3 linked regions of the Homo sapiens genome follow. The protein of the gene in region 1 purifies or fractionates together with the protein of each later gene. This does not show direct contact. Each region holds a gene or a part of one and is shown on either strand. Other genes may lie near its edges.

What was found.
Region 2: the proteins of STMN1 (region 1) and TPM2 fractionate together in Homo sapiens (co-fractionation; 2 studies listed by BioGRID). This does not show direct contact.
Region 3: the proteins of STMN1 (region 1) and TPM3 purify together in Homo sapiens (affinity purification with mass spectrometry; 2 studies listed by BioGRID, with this or other methods). This does not show direct contact.

Annotation. Positions count from the first base shown.
Region 1 is NC_000001.11:25,903,328-25,910,848, reverse strand, and holds the start of STMN1 (stathmin), read left to right. Parts: upstream 1-4,429; 5' UTR 4,430-4,460; exon of another isoform or gene 4,461-4,487; intron 4,488-4,803; exon of another isoform or gene 4,804-4,997; intron 4,998-6,110; 5' UTR 6,111-6,172; coding exon 6,173-6,185; intron 6,186-7,035; coding exon 7,036-7,208; intron 7,209-7,521. UniProt on the Homo sapiens protein: Involved in the regulation of the microtubule (MT) filament system by destabilizing microtubules. Prevents assembly and promotes disassembly of microtubules. Phosphorylation at Ser-16 may be required for axon formation during neurogenesis.
Region 2 is NC_000009.12:35,686,730-35,694,552, forward strand, and holds the start of TPM2 (tropomyosin beta chain), read right to left. Parts: upstream 3,197-7,823; 5' UTR 3,089-3,196; coding exon 2,975-3,088; intron 2,543-2,974; coding exon 2,417-2,542; intron 1-2,416. UniProt on the Homo sapiens protein: Binds to actin filaments in muscle and non-muscle cells. Plays a central role, in association with the troponin complex, in the calcium dependent regulation of vertebrate striated muscle contraction.
Region 3 is NC_000001.11:154,181,905-154,189,100, forward strand, and holds part of TPM3 (tropomyosin alpha-3 chain), read right to left. Parts: intron 5,539-7,196; exon of another isoform or gene 5,354-5,538; intron 1,315-5,353; exon of another isoform or gene 1,216-1,314; coding exon of another isoform or gene 1,084-1,215; intron 1-1,083. UniProt on the Homo sapiens protein: Binds to actin filaments in muscle and non-muscle cells. Plays a central role, in association with the troponin complex, in the calcium dependent regulation of vertebrate striated muscle contraction.

The DNA.
Region 1 (7,521 bases):
CACCTTAACTGATCAATGTACTTTGTAATCTCCCCCACCCTTAAGAAGGTTCTTTATAATGTCACCCACCCTTAAGAAGTTTCTTTGTAATTCTCCCCACCCTTGAGAATGTACTTTGTGAGATCCATCCCCTGCCCCCAAAACATTGCTCTTAACTCTACTGCCTATCCCAAAACCTATAAGAACCAATGATAATCCCACCACCCTTTGCTGACTCTCTTTTCGGACTCAGCCCGCCTGCATCCAGGTGAAATAAACAGCCTTGTTGCTCAAAAAAATAAAAATAAAAATAAAAATAAAAAATAAAGTGTTAAATGAATTGAATTTAACCCCATGGGAAGAGTTAACCCAGTAACTACAATTTCCATCAAAGGGTGAAAGTCTAATAGTCATTCACTCATTCAATAACCTATAGCAGGCCAGGCACCGCGGCTCACGCCTGTAATCCCTGCACTTTGGGAGGCCGAGGCAGGTGGATCACCTGAGGTCAGGAGTTTGAGACCAGCCTGATCAACGTGATGAAACCCCATCTCTACTAAAAATACAAAAAATTAGCTGGGCATGGTGGCGCACACCTGTAATCCCAGCTACTCAGGAGGCTGAGGCGGGAGAATCGCTTGAACCTGGGAGGCGGAGGTTGCAGTGAGCTGAGATTGCACCACTGCACTGCAGCCTGGGCAACAAAAGCAAAACTCCGTCTCAAAAAATAAAAATAAAATAATCTATAGCAATCAGGAAACATCTCTAGCAATGATACCTAACAAGTGCACAGCACTTTAAATGTGCCAGGCATTGTGCTGTTTTCATTTACATTATTTCATTTAATCCTCACCACTCCCAGAGTGCAAGTGTCTAATATCACAGAAGAGACAGAAGATCACAGAAGGATGAGAGAGGTTGTTCTTTTTTTTTTTTTTTGTGAGACGGAGTCTTGCTGTGTCGCCCAGGCTGGAAGGCAGTGGCGTGAACTCGGCTCACTGCAACCTCCACCTCCCAGGTTCATGCCATTCTCCTGCCTCAGCCTCGTGCGTAGCTGGGACTACAGGCGCCCGCCACCATGCCTGGCTAATTTTTTGTATTTTTAGTAGAGACGGGGTTTCATCGTGTTAGCCAGGATGGTCTCGATCTCCTGACCTTGTGATCCGCCTGCCTCAGCCTCCCAAAGTGCTGGGATTAGAGGTGTGAGCCAGCGTGCCCGGCCAAGAGGTTGTTCTTTCCCAAAGTTCTCTGCAAACATTCAGGCGCCATCATCCTGGGCCAGGCCTGAGGATGGGCACTGCACTAGGGATACCAAGACAAAGACAGCACCCTGCCCTCTAGGACCTAATGGTCTAGTGAGGGAGATCGATGTGTAAAACAGCAGACTCATAGACAGGTTTTGAATAGAGAAGGGAGTGTTAGAGCATAGTGCTTGAGGATTAGGAGACAAAGGGAACAGAGAGACCGGGGACAACAAGCAAACCTCTCCCACGACACCCTTTGGCCGAGGACAGGCCTCGAAAGCAGCTGTGGAACTTGGAGGCGCCATGTGGGAGACAAACCCTGCAGCCTCAAGCCCAACAATGAACAAAGGCTGCCGGGCTCTCTGGCAGGAGAGGAGATCTGACAACGGCCTGGCCCGCCGTTTGATCAGTGTAGACATTCCTTCTAGACTTTGAAGCCTGAAGTGCTCTCCTTTAGCTGTCTACACAGATCAAATAAGCTGGATGACTGCCCTATCTCCACTTCGTTGTGTGGCTCCATAGTCACAGCCAGCTCCATAACAATCCAACCAAACCATCTGAGCAGAAGCAAAAATAATTCTTATGGGCAAAGATAGACAGTTCCAAGATGTGAACATTAACTCCTTGCTGCCACTTCAGAAGAGAGTGGATCTTGAAGTTCGTTTTAGGAAGCTTTCGAGAAGGGCGATTCTGCCCCTCTCCAAGGTGAAGTGGCAAAACTGTTGTCTCTCCTTACAGTTGAAAGCCCTTCCTATTCCAAGGCTTATATAGGACACCCACAAAAGCTGACAATAATGAGCTGTGATCTGGCTCTTGGGAAGGCAGCCCCACCCTAAAGAACAAGGATCAGACTGGGTGTGGTGGCTCATGCCTGTAATCCCAGCACTTTGGGAGGCTGAGACAAGAGGATTGCTTGAACCCAGGAGTTCGAGGCCAACCTGGGCAACATAGTGAGACCCTGTCTCAATTTTTTTTAAGTCAAATAATAATAATAATAATAATAATAATAATAATAATAATAATAATAATAAAAGGACAGGAATCCCACCTCAAAAGCACCTTTTTATTCAAAGGCTCATTCTAGGGGAAACTTTAACCCAGCCCTCTCAGTCCTCAAGCAGCTGTGAGGAGCTTGGAACATTGTCACAGACTGGCAGAACCAGGCATCTCCCAACAAACCCAGAAGCCAAGTGGCATTGCTAAAAAAGATTAAAAATGAACATGAGTTCTAACATCTACGTTCCTTGCTATGGTTTCCATGGAAATAGACATCTGCTCTAGGGAGAAAGAAAATGTGGGGGGAAGCAGTGTAAGTGCTTTCAAATTATCAGTGTTTTGAAAGATTTATTTCTTTTTTCTGTCACAACATTAATAGTCAGGAATGTGAGACTTTTGTGTGGCAATTTATTGTACTTAAAAAAATGCATTAAATGAGTGGGACCTTCCTCTGTGAACCTCCAGATCAAATACAAAGACTTCAAGATAAAAAGCCTGTTCAGTGGGTAAGGACCTCTTGGGCTTGGGTTCCTTGCTCATTTGTGTTGCCTGCCTATCTGTCGCTTTCCTGAGGGGTCTCATGCCCATCCTTCTCCAACTTTTCTAATGATGTCTGAGATTCTGTTCAGAAAAATGACAGACGGAAGCACCTAGCCATTTTGAAGCTAAGTTTGGTCTGAGAAGAAGCCTTTCAAGGCTCAGTATCTGAATTATTCCTGGTCCTGCTCACAGGCTAAGTGAAAACCACTTCGATTGGCTTGGGGGGGAGGCCGACCCCACACAAGGGCGATTGTTGGAAAAAATGCCGCAACAAGCATATTTCAGGCAACAGCGCATTGCTAATTGTTTGCTTTGTGTAGTGTGCTGCTGCTTGTATGATCCAGTTTTTATTGTCTTGGGCACCCCTTAGTTGTATTTTATCTCTGGCACATCCCTGGTGACTAACTAGGCATGAGAGTCTTTCTAAATTAGGACTGTTGTTTCAGGAAGGTTGGTCACATTTGTTTCTTGATTTGGGGAGATGCAGCTCATTAATAAAATAAAGATATCTCTTCTGCTTAGTCAAGATCTCAAAGCAGGTGTCTTGGTGTATTGACCACCAACCGAGGACACGGTCTTGGTCAGAGAATGGGAGGAGGCGGGGACCATGTTCATTTCATTTATTTTTTTCCCCTTTTTGTGAGAGAAAGGGCCAGTTATTCTAAGGCACGGTCAGACCAATTTCCTTTGTGCCTTTGCTGAGGTTCTGAGCTATCCAGGTCAGGGAGAACAGTGACCTTGTGGCTCCTTTTTCGATTTTTAAAAAGAACCCAGTGCTGCTCTGGGGAGCACGTGCTCTGAGAACAAAAGCAACACTTAACTGCAATCTGTGTAGTCTAGAACGGCTATTGCTCTTCCTCCCCTATCATCCGCAGAAGGCTTGGAAGAACAGATGGAGTCTGCATTTAAGCTGAGTGGCTTTGTTAGACCAAAGGCGATCAAATTCCAGAGCCCCACGCTTTCCCGCACAGGTCCCTGGTCACCGGCTCGGGAACCTGAGGATGCTGGCAAGAACGCACACAGTGAGGGAAGGGCCACGCCCGCGACCTGTGGGCTGAGTGGATTAGAAATTACGATGATGTCACAATATGGGTGACACGCCGGTGTCGGTGTAGGGTGCCGGGGGCAGGGGGCCCTGCAGGGGCGTGGAGTGGCATTGTGCTGTCACAGGGGCTCGGGCGTCTTAGGCACCCATGTGGGTGGCGCACTAGAAGGGGCACTGCTCTGTCCGAGTGCTGCCCTTGGGGCGAGGCGGGCATGTGGCTCTACAAGGTGGAGTCCAGGCGGCCAAAGTTTGGAAAGGTAGGGAAGGACCCCCCCGCCCTCCGCCTGCTCCGCCCTGCCCTTGTTCTCGAGAATGGGGAGCTGGTTCGGACCTAGTCCGGGGTCCACTGCCACGCCCTCTTCCACGGCGAGACCACCCCCCTAGTCCCAGGCCCACACCTGGGGATGCTCCCCAGGCGCCCTGCAACCCCCGGCATTGTCCTCCTGCCCTCCGGGACAGGACTACACTTCCCGAGGTGCTTCGGGGTCCCGGGGGGCGGCGCTCCACGCGGGTTGTGGGGGGCGGGGGCGGCACGTGCCGCCGCTCTCGGCCAATGCGGAGCCCCGCGCGGAGGTCACGTGCCTCTGTTTGGCGCTTTTGTGCGCGCCCGGGTCTGTTGGTGCTCAGAGTGTGGTCAGGCGGCTCGGACTGAGCAGGTGGGTGCGGGGCTCGGAGGAGGCGGCGGCTGGCTGAGGCCAGCAAGAGGGACGCGGTCGGCGGGAGGGGCTGGGCCGTGGCAGCGACCCCCTGCTGCAGGGCGGCGGGCGGGGCTGCGGGCCTCGGAGGGGTTGGTGGGCGGGGGTCGCTCCGCTTTGTGTGTGGCTCGGGCGGAGCCTCGCCTTTGTCCCCGCTCTCCGGGGGCGCGGCTGTTCGTGGGCAGGGGGCTGGGCGATCACCGGGCGTCCGCTCCGGGGTGCCGTCGAGGAGACAATAGGGGGCGTGGGCCCTCGTTTACCTCCCTCCCTCCCTCCCTTCCCTGCGGGCCCCGCCGGGTTCCCCATTGTCTGAAGGGACGGGGCGGTGCCCCAGGGACCAGCGGCTTTAGGACCAAACTGCGGGCAGCCAGGGCCGCGACCCTCCCTGCGACCGTCCCCTGGCGACCGCAGCTGGTGATTGAGGGGCGGCGCTCCCGGGCCCCACGAGGGTTCTTCTGTCTTCGCGGCCGGACGCGCGGACAGCGTGGGTGGCGGCAGGTTGGGCATGGGGACGGCGGGAGGCGGTGGCGAGCTCACCGCGGGACCACCCGGGGGCCTGTTCCCGGGGCCTGCCCCACCCGCTGAACTGTGAAGGGGGTGGTGGCGGCGGCCTGGAGGTGTTTTTGGCGGGAGTTGGGGGGGGCGTCCGCGCAGGGGGAGTCAGGCAGGGGCGGAGTTACCCGGATTGGACCGTTAGCCCCGCCCACCCCTCCCCTTCCCACGCGCGCGGGCTCCGGGGTGTTGAGTTCGGGGAGATTCGAAAAGGCGCGGGGAGGAAGGGGGCGGGGCCAGGGGCCGGAGCGCAAGGCGTGCTCTGATTGGCCGGGGGCGACCGGTCCTCTTTTCCTCGCCCGGACCAGGGCCACGCCCATCCTGGGTCCGGTGCTGCGTCTAATTCTCTGCTTTTCTTAAATCTTGTCGCTGCCTCTGATTTTAATTCCTAGCTTTTGGGAACCTGTCATCCTACGTTTTTGGTACTAGCTGGCGTCTACAAAAGTCATAATGTTAAAAAGATCAACAAGAGATACAGCATTTTTCATGACATAACGGCAGCAAATATAAGTCAAAATCTAGAGGTTCATAAACATTTTGCTTGCTGTTGGGCAAGGAAGCTTAAACCTGAGGGACAATAGGAGTTCAACATTATTGGTTACTATTAGCTTGGGCGTTTTCTTATCCACCACGTCAGACACAGACAAAGCAGGGGTGGGTATTTCATTTGCACAATGAGTTGTAGGCAGTATTAAGATGGCTCCGGGGGCACTGTTGAGTTGAATCTGGAATATCTTCTTACAGTTTCGGTGAAATGTTAAAGAGTTTATGGGGGAAAAATTCTTCACCCTTGTGACTTTGTCTGATTTTAAAAATCCAAGAGTTTTATGACCGAGAAAGCTCAGTTAACTTGATTTTCTGGAACCAATATCATATTCAGGTCATATTTCCCAATGTTTATTTAGTAGATTTTGATAATTTTTTTCGTGGTTAATTTAGACGTCTTTATTCCACGTATTTTTCTGACGATGTATGTAGATGTGATGTGAGATTTTTTTGGGTTGATGACATATAGAAAGGCAAAGAAAGTGATTGCATGTTTTTGAAAATCATTTTCAGGACTTTCCTTATCCCAGTTGATTGTGCAGAATACACTGCCTGTCGCTTGTCTTCTATTCACCATGGCTTCTTCTGGTAGGTAATCTATTTGGAAAATCTGAAATTGTAATGGGCTTATGATTTTAGATTGAGATGGCTCAGGTCTTCGCCTTTGATTTGGCACTTATGTTTTGGTCTTACCAAAACCTATTTTATGAATAGGAGAAGAATTTAAAAATGATTATCACTTGAATGTGCCGAGAGCTCGTAATTGTTTATTGGACAGTTTGGCTTAGTCTGAAGCAAAATTGTGGAGTTTGCACAAGTCTTTTGTTTATGAAAGCGATTGTCAGATACTGATGTCTCAAAACAGTATTTATTAATCCAAAAATGTTGAGCTTTGTTTTTCTGGGAGATGGTTTTTATTTTTTTTGAGACAGGGTCTCACCTTGTTGCCCAGGCTGGAGTGCAGTGGCTTAATTATAGCTCATTGCAGCCTTGACTTCTGGAGCTCAAGTGGGCTCAAGCGATTCTCCCACCTCAGCCTCCATAGCATCTGGGACTATCGACATGGGCCACCACACCCACCTAATCAAAAAAAATTTTTTTTGTAGAGATGGGCTTTCCCTTTGTTGCCCAGGCTGGTCTCAAACTTCAGGGCTCAAGGGATCTTCCCATGTTGGCCTCCCACGGTGCTGGGATTATAGGCATGAGCCATGGTACCTGGCCTTGGGAAATGGTATTTAGATAATAATATCTTGCCTGCAAATACATCTTCCCCTAGTGTCAGTAGACTGATAGGAATAAAAAGGGGAAAAAAAACACAACTTTCCTCATCAGCCCTAGTTTAATACATTAAATTGATTTGGGTTTTAGAAAATTATAGTACAGTTTATTAGAACAGGAGAATCCTGGTTTTCTGAATTATAAATATAATCAATTCTAGATATCCAGGTGAAAGAACTGGAGAAGCGTGCCTCAGGCCAGGCTTTTGAGCTGATTCTCAGCCCTCGGTCAAAAGAATCTGTTCCAGAATTCCCCCTTTCCCCTCCAAAGAAGAAGGATCTTTCCCTGGAGGAAATTCAGAAGAAATTAGAAGCTGCAGAAGAAAGACGCAAGGTAAACGAAGCAATTCACAGAAAGCAGGATATTAATTTATGTAATGGGCAGATCAATTTTATTTCTATAACAGGAAGAAAACAGAATTGTAGCTACACTGTGATTATTACATATGCCAGTGACTGGAAGGAAATACCAGTCCTCATTTATTGAACTCCTGTTACATGCCCGCTCCTTTGTTTATATTTTTCTCCTTTAATACATGGTGTTGCCTCAAATAATGGAAATTAGAAACAGTTTCAGGAATGTTAAGTCGTTTTTCTGCAGTCATACAACTAGTAAGTGTTGGGGTCAGAATTCAAGCCCTGGTCTA
Region 2 (7,823 bases), on another chromosome or scaffold:
TATAAGGAATACCCATGGCTGTAGCAAGGGGCTCCCTGCCAAGGCCAGCAGAGAGCTGGGGGCAATGCAGGGGCAGTGTGAGGGATGTCTACTCAGCCCCTGGGCTTGCAGTAGGAGGCAAAACCATGGAGGTTTTGGAAAAAATCCATAAAAACTGGTCAAACACTGAGAAAAAGGGCAGAGCAAGGCGAGCGCCAGTAAAGGAAAATGAGAGGAGCAGGGCAGCCACGTGTTAAGAGCATCGGCTCTGAGTCAGATTGTCTTTGAGCCACGGCTCAGCCACTCAACACCTGTGTAACTGTGGGCAACTTATTTAGCCTCTCTAAGCTTCAGTTTCCTCCTTCACAAGTTGGAGTTAACAATAACAGTTCCTCCTTCTTAAGGCTGTTCTGAGATAATCCACTGCTTTTAATACTCAGTTAATCAACAGGACCTTCGGTGAGACTCATAAAACTAAACAGGTTCTCTTACTCCATGCTAGATCCACTGAATTGGGATGTGTAGGGCGGGGGCTTGGGAATCTTCTCTTTTTTTTTTAAAGCCCCCGAGTGATTCTGATGATAAGCCAAGTTTGGGAAATTGTAAAATAACATGCAGAAAGCACTGAGTACATTGCCTGCACAGGGTCCACATTCCATAAATATTAGGTTATCCCCTTTCTCTGTCAAAAACAAGGACACAGAGACCCTGAGATTTCAGAGTGGAAAGGAGAGAGGACCTGTGTAGGGAAAGGAGGTGGGGGGAGGGGCTGGGGGCAGCACTTGGACACAGCATAGGAAGCAGGTCCTTGGTCGGACTGTAGGGCAGGAGAAACAGCACCATATATAGAGAGTAGATGGTAGCTTGTCTTCCAGGTGCTGAAGGCACCTGGAGCTTGGCCACCTAGAGTGACAAGAGCCCATCATGGGCACAGGGCCGGATGACAGTGTGGAAGCATTCTGGGGACAGCATTGGGGGTTGGGAAGAATCACTGTGGGGGACATTGGAGTACTACCCTAGAGAGAGGTGAGACTGTAAAAGAAAAACTCTGCATGATGGTGGGGTGACAAAAGACTCTGGAAAGTTTGGGAAGTCCTGGGGTCCTCATCATGGGACTGATATGTGCCATTTCCTGCCTCTCAAGCTCTTCCCAGTTACGGGGGCGGCTCTCTAACCACAGGACAGGCACTACTGTCCCCATTAGAAAAATGGGAAGCAAGAGAGAGGGAGAAACTGAGGCACCATGTAAGTTGAGTGCTGTGTTCAAGGTCACCAGGAAGCTTGGGCAGTCTTTCCTATCTGCTCCTGGTGCTGCGGCTCTGCCTCCCCAGCTCTGTCCCTGTCCCCCCTGCCCCTCCAGCCCCCACCAGCAACTTGGGTTTCCAATCTTGCCTCCAGCTGCACTGGGCCTTGGTTATTTATAGAGTGTCAGATGCCCAGGGTTGTCTGTGCTAGCAGCTGCAGGTCAGCTCCCTCCCAAGTGCCAGGACTGGTGGAGAACCAAAACTGGAGGCTGGAGGTCACAGAAGCCCAACCCCTGGGGGGCTGGGAACATGAGCAGTCGACACAAACAGCTATGTCATCTCTGATGTTCAGACCATGCTTTATGCTAATCTAACCATAGGTTCATCTTAAAACAATCCTGGGTGGAAGGAAGATGGGGAAACTGAGGCAGAGAATGGGGAAACTACCACCACACCAAAGCCATATGGCCATTCTCCTACCTTAAGCTGGGGGTTGGGAATGGCAGGAAGTGAAGTCTGGTTGGGGTTGTGGGGTGGGCAGAGAAATCTCAGGGTAAATGACCTGCCAAGGTAGCTGCTTTGGCATTTGTGGCCCTGTCCCTCTGCCCTGTGGCCTGGCATGGTCTCCAGGCTGACAGCTTAATGAGGGTAAATGAGGAGCCATTAGAACCTGAGCTGGGGCCCCAGGGCACAGCAGGGCTGCTGAAGCCAGAGGTCAAGGCCAGGGAATTTCTAATGGCCCCTTAGGGTTGTAACTCAAGTGGGGTCTCATCTCTGGATCCCTCTCCCTCCTCCTGCAGGCTAGTACCTCACATCCACATCCCCCCATCCCCAAACGGCTGCAGTCTCCTCTCCAATTTCAGCTGGAGGATTAATTGAGGTAGATGGTAAATTCTTATACCTTCCACCCCCACAATGACTCATTGCTTGATCACTGTACATTCTAAAAGCTGGAACCAAACAGAATTACAGGGCTAAGTCCTCTGGGGGAAGTGGTAGGTGGTTTTGATTTATCCACTGTCTTGGATTACTTGTGTAAGTTTACCCTAGCCCTGGTTACTGAGATGAAACCATTTCTCTCCTGGCGCTGGGGACATAAGGGGATAAGGTGCCCCAATCCTCTTATTCCCATACCCGGGGGGCCCCTTCCCAGAGCCCTAACTCCTCCCATTGTCCCCCAAGTCCACACTCACATCAGTGGCCTTCTTCTCGGCCTGCTCCAGTTTCTCCTGGGCCTCCTTCACGGATTCAGAATACTTTTCCACCTCATCCTCTGTCCCCTTCAGCTTCTTCTGGAGGGCCTGCTGCTCCTCCTCCAGCTGGGACAGAGGGGACTTGGTCAGCCAGGCTGGGAGGGGGCCCAGGCCCAGAATGGAGACGCGGTGTGTGTAGGGGCGCTACTAAGATTTGGAGGCTACTGGGATGGAAGCGGAATAACATAAAAGGGACAGTACAGTCAAGGGTACTGGTGGGACCCGTTGAGGGTACAGAGAAAACTTCAGGCCCCAAGGAGCAGGACCAACCGCGCTCTGCAAAGGCAGAGTGGAAACCAGGGGCCTGGGGCTTCCCCAGGCTATTGTAGGGGAGAGAAGCGGCTCTGGCGAAGGCCCTGAGGGTACTGCGAAGGCCCAGCCCCCACCCTGGGTGAGAGAGAGCCTTGGCGGGCAGGCCCGGGGCTGGGGGACCCATGGCAGCGGCCCACCCTTGCCCTAGGCGCGGGGAGAGCAGGCTGCACTGGGCCCGGCCCTAACCTGCTTGCAGCGGTCCTCAGCTTGCTTCTTGTCGGCTTCGGCCTGCTCGGCGCGGTCGATGGCGTTCTCCTTGTCCAGCTTCAGCATCTGCATCTTCTTCTTGATGGCGTCCATGGCTGCGGTGGGGGGTGGGCCGGCCGGCAGGCGGTGAGGACCGGACGGACTGGGCTGGGTGAGCGGACTGGGTGCACCGGTGGCAGGCGAGGAGGACGGAGCGGGACTGGGACGTCCCGGCCACGCGGGCGCCTAAAAGGCGGGGAGGGACCGGGCGGGGCCGGCAACCAGGACCCTCCCCCACCTCGGCCCAAACCTTGTAGGGGCAGAAGCACGGCCCGGCCGGGGGGTGCGGCCGCCCCCTTCGCCCACCCACTGGGGACCGCCTCCCTTGGGGTCCCGCCCCCATCCCCCTCTTCCCTGCCAGCCGTCGGAGGAAAAAGTGGCCGACGGTCGGCTGGAAAAACCCCGGCGATGCGAAGGGGAGGGGACCCTTGGGCTGGGGGCTCCGTGCTTCCTCTGAGTGACAGCCGGACCCAGTGGCAGCTGCGGCTGGGGCCCCTGGGGCTATTTCGGGGCGTGAGCTCACGGCAGCTGCCCGGGCGCAGGGACCGGCGTGCCCCCCCTCAGCTGCAGCAGCCGCTACCCTTAATTTAGAAGTTTCCTGCAAATCCCCCCGGATTAAATGTCTCTCGGGAGGCGGAGCTCCTCGGCAGTTTGAGTGCCTCAGTTTACCCTGAGTCCCTCTAGGTTTGCGTTATCGACGTGGTGGTAGTAGCGGAGTCTCATCGGGAGCTTGGGGAAACTGAAGCAGGAAGCGAGCCCAGAGCCCCGGTCGCGGTGGGGAGTGTGGCCGGGCTTGCTGCCCCCAGGACCGGCCTGACCTCTCATCCCCTCGCCTCCCCTCCCAGCCCCTGCCCCTGGAGCCAGGCCCTTCCTGCGAGCACCCGGCGGCTCAGGACCCAGCTCCCCGCCCCGCCCCCCACGTGCCCCGCATATTTTCCACGCGGCTGCGGCCAGGCTGGTCACCGCGCGTTCCCCGCCCCCGCTCCCACCCGGACGCGTCCCGAGCCCCTCCGCTCCCCGCCCCTGGCTCCGCCTGGCCCCACTCCCCTCCGCGCGCCTTCCCTCTTCTCCCCCGCTCCCCGCGGACGCTCCTCTCTTTCCCAGTGGGCCAACTTTATGCTGAAATTTCTTTTCTGCCCTTTTTTGGGATGTTTCCCCATTGGGAGGCGGAGCCGGGCTGCGGCGGGGAAGGCGGAGGGCGAGGGGAAGAGTCACTGAGCTGCGGGGCATAGGGGGTCCGGGGCGAGGTGCCTTCTCCCACCCAGGCCGCCAAACCAGCGCCGGAGCCGGGTCGTGGGGTCTGGGAGTCGGAGGCGCGAGGCGCGAGGGTGTTTGTTTTCGTTTTTCCCTGGGGTGGGGTGGGGGGAAAGGAAGTGGAGAGCCGCCGGGAGGAGGGGGAAGGGGAGGAGAGAACAAGCGGAGGAAGCCGGGAGGGAGCTGCTAGCCTCGCCCCCACCCTCCAGTCATAGAGGGGCGGGAGGCCTGGATTTTGCAGTGGGCTGGGGACCGTGGGAACCCGAGGCCGCTGGCCGGGGCGGTGGGGAGGTGGCGTGGAAATGCATTCAGATCTGTTTAGCTGCCTGCTAGCCACACGGAGAGCAACCCTGGCCTGACCTCGCAGTGTTCCTCTAACTCCGTGGAAGACGCCTCATCCACCAGTAGCCTATGCTAGACCACTGGGTATCCCCTGCCCTTCGCGTCTCACAACCACCTAATCCTGGAGAGGCTGCCTTCTACCAAGGAGGTTCCTCCTCGGGTCGGTCTGGGCTGGCCTCTGGCCGCGCCTTATGTTTTCTTCAGTCTGTTTTGTAGTCTTACTTCTAGTTCCTCAACTCATTCATTCATTTGACTGTCCCATGACATTGTTGTCAAATATCTTTTTAAAAGTTAATGCGAATATTATCTAAAATTCTCCAAAACCCCTCCCTAATCCCTGTCCCCCCACCTTTTTTGAGACGGGAGCTTGCTAGATTGCCCAGGCTGGTCTTGAACTTATGGGCTTAAGTGATCCTCCCGACTCAGCCTCCTGAGTAGCTGGGATTACAGGCGTGCGGGCACCCTGCCTGTTTTGAGGAGAAAAAAAAAATCCACATTTCTTAATATGGTATAGAAGGCCCGTTGTTTTGGCTGTTGCCTGCCTCTCTGGCCTCATCTCCTTCCATGCCCAACCTCACCCCCAGTATTCATACTTGTACCTCATGCTGCATTCATAATGAGCTACGTGCAGGAGCTGGAAATAGCCATACTTTTCTTAAAGCTTCCACAGTTTATGCATTCTGTTCTCTCTCCCTAAAATGCCCATCCCCTTGGCTGATTCCTGGTGGCCTTTAAGACTCAGTAAGTGTCAGCTTTTCTGGGAAGCCTTCCCTGGCCACTTCTCTTCCCACCGCCTCACCTAATAGGTGCGTGTTCTTGGTGCGGGCTCTCACCCTCATCCTAGTCCCATGGTATAACTGTTCTTATACCGGTTTGGCGCCTCCGCCGGTCTGTGAGTCCTCAACAGAAACGACTGTTCTCAATTCTGAATCCCCAAGGCCTATCACAGCACCAGGCATAGAGTTGGCACTTCATGAACATTTGCCAGATGAGTTTTTTATGTACCAGTTTCTGGGTACTTATCAAATATACTAATACGGTGTGGGTCTTTTGGTCTTAGAACCCATTACACTCTTAAAAAGTATTGAAGACCCCCAAACAGCTTTTTTGTTGAAGTGGGTTATATCTACCAATAGTTGCCATATTAAAATGAAACTTGAGAAAAATTTTAAATATGTATCAATTCGTTAAAAATAACAAAAATAAACTCATTACACATTAATCATGTTAACATAATGTTCTAAATGAAAGATAACTATATTCCCATTCCCCGAATTAATGAGAGTATGGAAATTATTTTACATTTTTACGAATCTCTTTACTCTCTGGCTTCCAAGGGGACAGCTGTATTATCAATATCTCCTTCCATATTTGATCTGTTGCTATATGTTGGTTACTGAGACATATGAAGAAAATCCTGTCTCACAACAGATATGCAGTTGGAAAGATTTATTTATTATTTTATTTATTTATTTTGAAACAGTCTTGCTCTGTTGCCCAGGCTGGAGTGCGGTGGTGCGATCTTGGCTCACTGCAACCTCCGCTTCCCAGGTTCAAGCAATTCTCCTGTCTCAGCCTCCTGAGTAGCTGGGACTACAGGCATGCACCACCATGCCTGACTAATTTTTGTATTTTCAGTAGAGACAGGGTTTCACCATGTTGGCCAGGCTGGTCTCGAACTCCTGACCTCAAGTGATCCGCCTGCCTTGGCCTCCCAAAGTGCTGGGCTTACAGGCGTGAACCACCACGCCTGGCCTATTTATTATTATTATTATTTGTTTATTTTTTTGAGACAGAGTCTCGCGCTGTCACCCAGGCTGGAGTGCAGTGGGGCGATCTCAGCTAACTGCAACCTCCGCCTCCCAGGTTCAAGTGATTCTCCCGCCTCAGCCTCCCGAGTAGCTGGGACTACAGGCATAAGCCATCACACCCAGCTAACTGTTGTATTTTTTGTTTGTTTGTTTTGTTTTTTTGAGACGGAGTCTCGCTCTGTTGCCCAGGCTGGAGTGCAGTGGCACAATCTCGGCTCACTGCAACCTCCGCCTCCCAGGTTCACGCCATTCTCCTGCCTCAGCCTCCCAAGTAGCTGGAACTATAGGCGCCCGCCACCATGCCCAGATAACTTTTTATATTTTTAGTAGAGACGGGGTTTCACTGTGTTAGCTAGGCTGGTCTTGAACTCCTGAACTCAGATAATCTGCCTGCCTTGGCCTCCCAAAGTGCTGGGATTACAGGCGTGAGCCACCATGCCGGGCCTGGCATATTTATGTTTTTTTGAGACAAGGTCTGGCTCTGTCACCCAGGCTGTAGTGCAGAGACACAATCACGGCTTGGCTCACTGCAGCCTTGACCTTCTGGGCTCAAGTGCTCTCTCCGCCTCAGTCTCCTCCAGTAGCTGGGACTACACATGTGCACCATCATACCCGGCCCTTTTTTTTTTTTTTTTAAATAGAGATGGTGTGCCACTATGTTGCCTAGGTTGGTCTCAAACTCCTAGGCTCAAGCTACCCTCCTGCCTCAGCCTCCCAAAGTGCTGGAATTACAGGCCTGAGCCACTGTGCCTGGCCGATAATTGGCAGTTTCTTAAGGGGCAGTTGCAATGTAGAATGTGAAACCATATCAGTGACCTTTTTGTACTGTTAAACTAAAATCCGTTGTTTTGGCCAAGTGTGGTGGCTCACGCCTGTAATCCCAGCACTTTGTGACGCCAAGGTGGGTGGATCACCTGAGGTCAGGAGTTCGAGACCAGCCTGGCCAACATGGTGAAACCCTCCCGTCTCTACTAAAACTACAAAAATTAGTCAGGTGTGGTGGTGGCACACGCCTGTAATCCCAGCCACTCGGGAGGCTGAGGCAGGGGAATCACTTGAACCTGCGAGGCGAAGGTTGCAGTTAGCCGAGATTGCACCACTGCACTCCAGCTTGGGTGACAGAGCAAGACTCTGTCTCAAAAAAAAAAAAAAAATCCGTTTTTCTGAACTGCACCTGATTGGATCTTTTACCCATGCATAATTTTGTAACACCGTGCATTCGTCATATGGAAAATAATTGATTCACTGAGCTATGCAAATCTTCCAAATATTAATGTTTCATTATACATTATTTTAAAAATCACAATAGGTTTCAGGCCAGGTGCGGTGGCTCATACCTGTAATCCCAGCACTTTGGGAGGCCGAGGTGGGTGGATTGCCTG
Region 3 (7,196 bases), about 130 Mb from region 1:
AGTGAGACTCTGTCTCAAAAAAAAGAAAGGAAGAAAGAAATCACTAGAATCACTGTTCACTCCACCAACATTTTATGTTTCCACTTTCAGTTGAACAAATATTCCACTAGAGTCACCTGGAATTCATTATTGTCTCCACCAAATTGCCCAAGTCAATCAGAAACCTTGAGACTGGCACACCATCTGATTCTCTGCCATACACTCGCTTATCAGCTCTGCTCGGAAGAAATGTTCTTAACCAGTTCGGCTTGCACTGATCACACTTCAGCAATAAAGGCCTGAATCTGACAGAAGTTCCTGCCTTCCAGGTCATTGTGGGTAGGGCCAGGCAAGTTTGGTTGGCTCCTACATTTGCACTAACGTTGAGAGAAGTACTATCCCCTCCCCTGCCGTTTCACGTAGATTCAGAGAGTGGGTGTAGCAGCTGCAAGAGCACCCCGTAAGAGGAAAGGGCCCCTGGCCAGAGGATGAGAGGCGGTCCTGTGGCCTCGAGCTCCTCCAGGGAGGGAGGGCACCGCGCTTCCTCTCAGCCAACTGCTGCCTCATTTCCTGAGCAGGAGGAGGGAGCGGAAAAGCTGCCAGCAGGCAGGCCGGGGTCTTTCCGACGGTTCCCACCCCAAAACCCTCACCATTTCACAGAAGGTTCAGTACTGCCCCTCCCCGAACAGAGAAGCACCCACCCACTCTTACCCCTTGGGCAGGAAACCTCAAGCCAGAGCAAAGTTCTCCCACCCTCCATGGGGAAGTGGGGGAGGGAGAAGCCGCTGAGCCCCTCCCACGGCCGCGCCCGGATCGGAGGCACTGAATGAATGAGGTGGAGAAAAAAAGAGGAGGAAAGCCACACCCCAAACCCCGTAAGGCTCAATTTCTTCAAAGGTCAAGCCTGCTCGCCCGAGCACTGTTTCCCCCTCGTCCGCTTGGTGTCCTACTGGTGCTGAGCCCCACCCATCCTCCGAGATCCCAACTTCATCTCCGAGCCCGCCGGCCTTCAGAGGACCGTGCTCCACGGCAAAAGGGACCTTATTCCGCTTGCCGGATACTCCAGCGCCTGCCCCTCCCTCATGAGCCTCACCATCTCCGTACCTGTTCCCGGGCCCGCCTTTCTCCCTCAACTTCTCGCTGGAGGCGCTCAGCTCGCTCCTCTGCATCATCTGCCTGCTGCTGCAGAACCTGGATCTTGCGCTTCACCGCCTCGATGGTGGTGATCCCAGCCATGGTGCCCACCCAGCTACTGCTCGCGCTCCGGTTCCTGCCTCCTCCGCTCGGCGTTGCAGCCTCCTCTCACCCTTACTTCCGCCTGCTACGCCCTGAAATACCGGAACTCACCAACCCGCCCGGATGTGACGTCCCTCTGCCGCGCCCTCCCACCGCCAGGCAGGCGGGAAGGCAGTCCACTGGAGGGAGAGCCGCGGCAGGGAGTGGATCCTCCCAGTCGCCCTGGAGTACGGCTCCCGGCCTTACCTTGGGCCAGTAAACTGGGACGGGGTTGGGACGAGGGAGTGTTACCATGGTAACTGGGCGGCGCTTCGTGCCCTAGCCTCTCCCGCCAGGCTGGCTGCCCACAATGGTTGGCCCCTTTGCAGGTAGTCGGCTGACCTTACACTCCCGCAATTGACCCCTCACTCCCGCAATGCCGATACCCGTCACCCCTCACTGTATTTGCTCCACAATATAAACATCCTACAAGTCTCTGCTTCCACTCACCCCACGACAAACTCCAAAACCAAGTTATAAGAAAAGTCTAAAAGACTTTCTGGGCCTCAGGTTCAAAAGAGCCCCACTCAGTCTCCTTTCAAAGTCGGCTCAGGTAGGTAGGTTCTCTCTCCCGTCTCCTGGAAGTCAATGAATGGAACTGTCGGAGTGGAAGGGATGGGCAAGATGGCACAAATTCTCATTCTATTTGGCATGGTATGAACTTAAGTGTTCTATTTAGAACAGACTTTTCTCCTTTTTTTTTTTTTTTTTTTTTTTTTTAAGAGACAAGATCTCGCTCTGTTGCTGGAGTGCGGCAGTGGCGAGATCACAACTCACTACAGCTTCGAACTCCTGGGCTCAAGCGAGCCTCCTACCTCAGCCTCCGGTGTAGCTGGGACTACAGGTGCACGCCACCCCGTCAGGCTCCCTGTTATTTTATTTATTTTTGTTTTGTTTTTTATTTTTTGGGACGGAGTCTCCTCTGTCGCCCAGGTTGGAGTGCAGTGGTGCGAACTCGGCTCACTGTAAGCTCCGCCTCCCGGGTTCAAGCGATTCTCCTGCCTCAGCCTCCCGAGTAGCGCCCTCCACCACGCCCGGCTAATTTTTTTTTTGTAGTTTTAGTAGAGACGGGGTTTCACCGTGTTAGCCAGGATGGTCTCGATCTCCTGACCTCGTGATCTGCCGGCCTCGGCCTCCCAAAGTGCTGGGATTACAGGTCCCTGTTACTTTTGAGAGTCATCATGCACCAAATTAACCAACCTTCCAGCCCCTCCAAACCTTGGAATGATTCAGGACTTGGCAATTTAATCATCAGCTGGGCGTGGTAGCTCATGTCTGTAAGTCTAGGATTTTGGGAGGCTGAGGTGGGAGGATGGCTTGAGCCCAGGAGTTCAAAACCAGCCTGGGCAATATAGCAAGACCTCATCTCTAAAAATAAATAAATAATTTAATAATCACTTACAATTCCTTTTGTAGGTAAGAAAGATATGCCCCCATTTTATCAGGAAGAAATCCTCTATTACAGACCACTGTCAGCCGGGCGGGGTGACTCATGCCTGTGATCCCAACATTTGGGAGGCCAACGCGAGAAGATCACTTCAGCCCAGAGTTTGAGACCAGCCTGGGCAGTATAGTGAGACCTCGTCTCTACAAACAATTAAAAAATTAGCCAGGCTTGGTGGCAGCACGTCTGTAGTCCCAGCTACTTGGGAGGCTGAGGTGGGAAGATTTCTTGAGCCGGGAAGGCAGAGGTTGCAGTGAGCCAAGATTGTATCACTGCCTCCAGTCTGGGTGACAGATTGAGAGCCTGTCTCAAAAAAATAAAAAACAGACGACTGTTACTAGATCCTTCATGCAACAGCCAGACATGAGTGCCTGTAAACTGTACTATAGAATTGAGCCTCCATTCTGTTACAACTTTTACCAATTTCAATGCCACTGTACTTCCAAGTACCCCCAAGGAACTGTTTATGAGTTAGAAACTTCCCTTTGGCCAGATGTGGTGGCTCATGCCTGTAATCCCAGCACTTTGGGAGGCCACGGCGGGCAGATCACCTGAGGTCAGGAGTTTGAGACCAGCCTGGCCAACATGGCAAAACCCCGTCTCTACTAAAAATGCAAAAATTAGCCGGGTGTGGTGGTGCACACCTGTAGTTCCAGCTATTCAGGGAGGCTGAGGCAAGAGAATTGCTTAAATCCAGGAGGCAGAGGTTGCAGTGAGCTGAGATGGTGCCACTCTACTCCAGCCCGGGTGACAGAGTGAGACTCTGTATCAAAAAAAAAAAAAAAAAAATGGCAAAACAGACCAGGCGCAGTGGCTCACACCTGTAATCCCAGCACTTTGGGAGGCTGAGGCAGGTGGATCACGAGGTCAGGAGTTCAAGACCAGCCTGGCCAAGATGGTGAAACCCTGTCTCTACTAAAAACCACAAAAACAAGCAAACAAACAAACAAACAAAAAACTAGCCAGGTGCAGTAGCAGGCGCCTGTAATCCCAGCCACTCGGGAGGCTGAGGCAGGAGAATTGCTTGAACCCAGAAGGCAGAAGTTGCAGTGAGCCGAGATCGCGCCACTGCACTCCAGCCTGGGTGACAGAGTGAGACACAGTCTGAAAAAAAAAAAAAGAAAAACAACAAAAAAAGAAACTTTCCCTACAGGCACTGCCATGCAGGATTTCTGGAAGCACAATAGTAAAGAGACTTGAGAACGTTATCTTCCCTCTTATTTCTTTGTATTCCTCCCACCTTCCCAGTAGGTAATCGTGATAAATTTTTCTTCTGGGACAGCTCTCTTTTCTCCTAGAAAATTAGGATGTGGAACAGGACTTACAATGAAGAGTCCTAATCCCTGAAAGGAATAGTAGGCAAGACAGTTGCTGCCCTCAATGTCTAGTTCTAAGAATGCTCCCTGCAGAGCCTCTGTTTTCCTATCACCTTTTGGAAATACCGAGCAATGAGACTATTCAGAAGAAACAACTTGGATAGATAATAATTTTCTCAATAGAGTAACCTGCACACTGATTTTTCCCCCAGAAATTAGGAAGGAAGATCAGGGTTCTGACTCTTAATAGACTCTACCCTGATGGCCTAAGAATTTTTCTAACTTGCTTTGTAGAAGTCTGATCAAGATGTGGCAGAAGTGACACTTTGTCATCTGGGTGCTGCTCAGCAGGGGGCACTATTGTACCTCCCTGTGCCCTGGTAAAGCAGCAGAAGACCTCATCCTAGCCAAACCAAGAGGGTATTGAGAGCACCACTGCATTTCTGAGACTGGTAGATTTGAGCAGATAATCTCCTCTTAATGCAGTCAAACAGATGGACTGACTCATGATAGCCTTTAGAAGCACAATGGATAGACAGCAAGGGGCCCAGTGCTATTGTGTTCCTAGTAACCAGCAATACAATATATCAACAGGTGTATATGTCCATCGTTGTCCCTTCTCTCCCCATCCTTCCTGCCACCTGTCCCTAAAAAATGGTGTTATGACTCTATGTCCTAACAATGCACTCCTCTTTCCCTTTGTTTCTCCCTAAACAGCATCTGATTTCATCTTGGATTAAAATGATCTTAGATGTGGTTGCACAACAATGTAAATATGCTACTACTGAATTAGACATTTAAAAATGGTTAAAATGGTAAGTTTTATGTATGCGTATTTTACCACAACTTAGAAAACAAAGTTAGACAAATTTAGGGAGGAAAAAAAAGTTTGGACTCGCCTTGCCATACCCTTGCCCTTTCTTTATTCAAGCAGTCCTAGTAAATCCTGCACTTTTCAGAAAGGCTTCTCAGATAACCAGAACTGCTTGTGTAAACACGTAGTTATTGACTCCCTCCTCCTTCTCTACTGCTTATATCTACTTCAAGATAATATGCTCTGTTTACTTATTTATTAACCTCAAGGACAGAAGCTGAGCTGTTAACTTCCTTTGTATTGGACAGAGTATACTCCCTCCAAAGATGCATATATTATGCTGCTGATGACTCTTACCTTTGCTTTCTGCTTTTAACCTTGTTGGTCCTTATTCAGCACCTCTCCCAATTCCTATAAACACTGTCCTTCTTTGACCCTTTGAGGCAGGGGTCATCCAACTTTTAGGGTCTTGTGGCCAGAGAGATAAGAAAGCCAGTAGACAGTATGTACAAGAATGAGCATGACTGTGTTCCGATAAAACTTTATTTACAAAACCAGGCTGTTGCAAGATTTAACCCACAGGTGGTAGTTTGCTGACTCTAGCTTTGAGGAAAGAAACCTTTCTTCTTGCTTGCTCCTGGCCACAACCTTCCCTCTCCTGTTTCTTGTTCTTATGCATATCTCTGAGGGTACTTTCTGACTTGGGAAAGCTAACAAAGGGGAGAGGGGTTGAATGAGTATTTTTAACCCTCACTTTACATATTTAAATGGGTTTTGGTGGATTCCTATGTAAATATGAAGAAACTTCTTTCAAATGAATATACTGAGTAGACCACATCTAGGTGAGGGGTGCTATGTGTGTGTATGTGTATGTCTGTACATGTGTAAAACAGATTAAGATAGACAGAATTCATCCCCAGGAAATCCTTTTATATTCCTAATGATTTTGATGTATTGCGTACAGCCTCTATGTTATTCTCCTTCTCATGATCTCAGGTTAGACTTGTTCTTTTTCTTGCTCCTGGAAACACCTCCTCAAGCCCACATACTAGCCGTTTCAGCCTAAGAGCAGACCCAGATTGATGTTACCCAATTTCTCACAAAACTGTTATTAACCTGACATTGTGCTAGTTTGTGAAAACTTCTATCTTCATGCCCATATGTTAGAAACAGAGAGATCCATCCAAATATACCAGGAACCTAGGCTATACAACTCCAGCCAGCCATCCACTTGCCCAAAGCCCAGGGGTAACCTGTAGATTTGGTAGGGTTGTTTGTTTGTTTGTTTTGTTTTGTTTTTTTGAGTTTTCTGAGAAGGGAGAATTTTTATCATTTTAAATAGAGACAGGGTCTTGCTCTGTCACCTAGGCTGGAGTGCAGTAGCATTATCATACCTCACTGCAAGCATGAACTCCTGGCTTCAAGCGATCCTCCCATCTCAGCCTCTGGAGTACGCGGGACTACCGGCACATGCCACCACACCTGGCTAATTTTTAAATTTTTTGTAAAGATAGGGCCTCACTATGTTCCCCAGGCTGGTCTTGAACTCCTGGCCTCAGGCGATTCTCCTGCCCTGGCCTCTCAAAGCAAAGTGCTGGAATTACAGGTCTGAGCCACCACACTGGGCACAAGAAGGGAGAATTAATAGTTTGTGGCGGCCTGGCCGGGCGCGGTGGCTCACACCTGTAATCCCAGCACTTTGGGAGGCCGTGGCGGGCGGATCACAAGGTGAGGAGATCGAGACCATCCTGGCTAACACGGTGAAACCCCATCTCTACTAAAAATACAAAAAATTAGCCGGGCGCGGTGGCGGGCACCTGTAGTCCCAGCTACTCAGGAGGCTGAGGCAGGAGAATGGCGTGAACCCAAGAGGCGGAGCTTGCAGTGAGCCAAGATCGTACCACTGCACTCCAGCCTGGGTGACACAGCAAGACTCCGTCTCAAAAAAAAAAAAAAAAAAAAGCCTGTGCTGGCCTTAACTTTTGGAAGAATGAGTTTAAATGATGTATATTTAGTTTGTGTTTCTAACCTCTGGCATAATATATTCAATTCTTACCACTTTCCTTGGCCACTGAAAGTGGTGGAAAACAAAACAGATCAGAAACCTAATGGCAGAGGCCAGGCATGGTGGCTCACATCTGTAATCCCAGCATTTTGAGAGGCCAAGGTGGGTGGATCACTTGAGGTCAGGAGTTGGAGACCAGCCTGGCCAACATGGTGAAACACTGTCTCTACTAAAAATATAAAAAATTACCCGGGCATGGTGGCAGCTGCCTGTAATCCCAGCTACTCAGGAGACTGAGGCAGGAGAATCACTTGAACCCGGGAGGTGGAGGTTGCAGTGAGTCGAGATCTTGCCACTGCATTC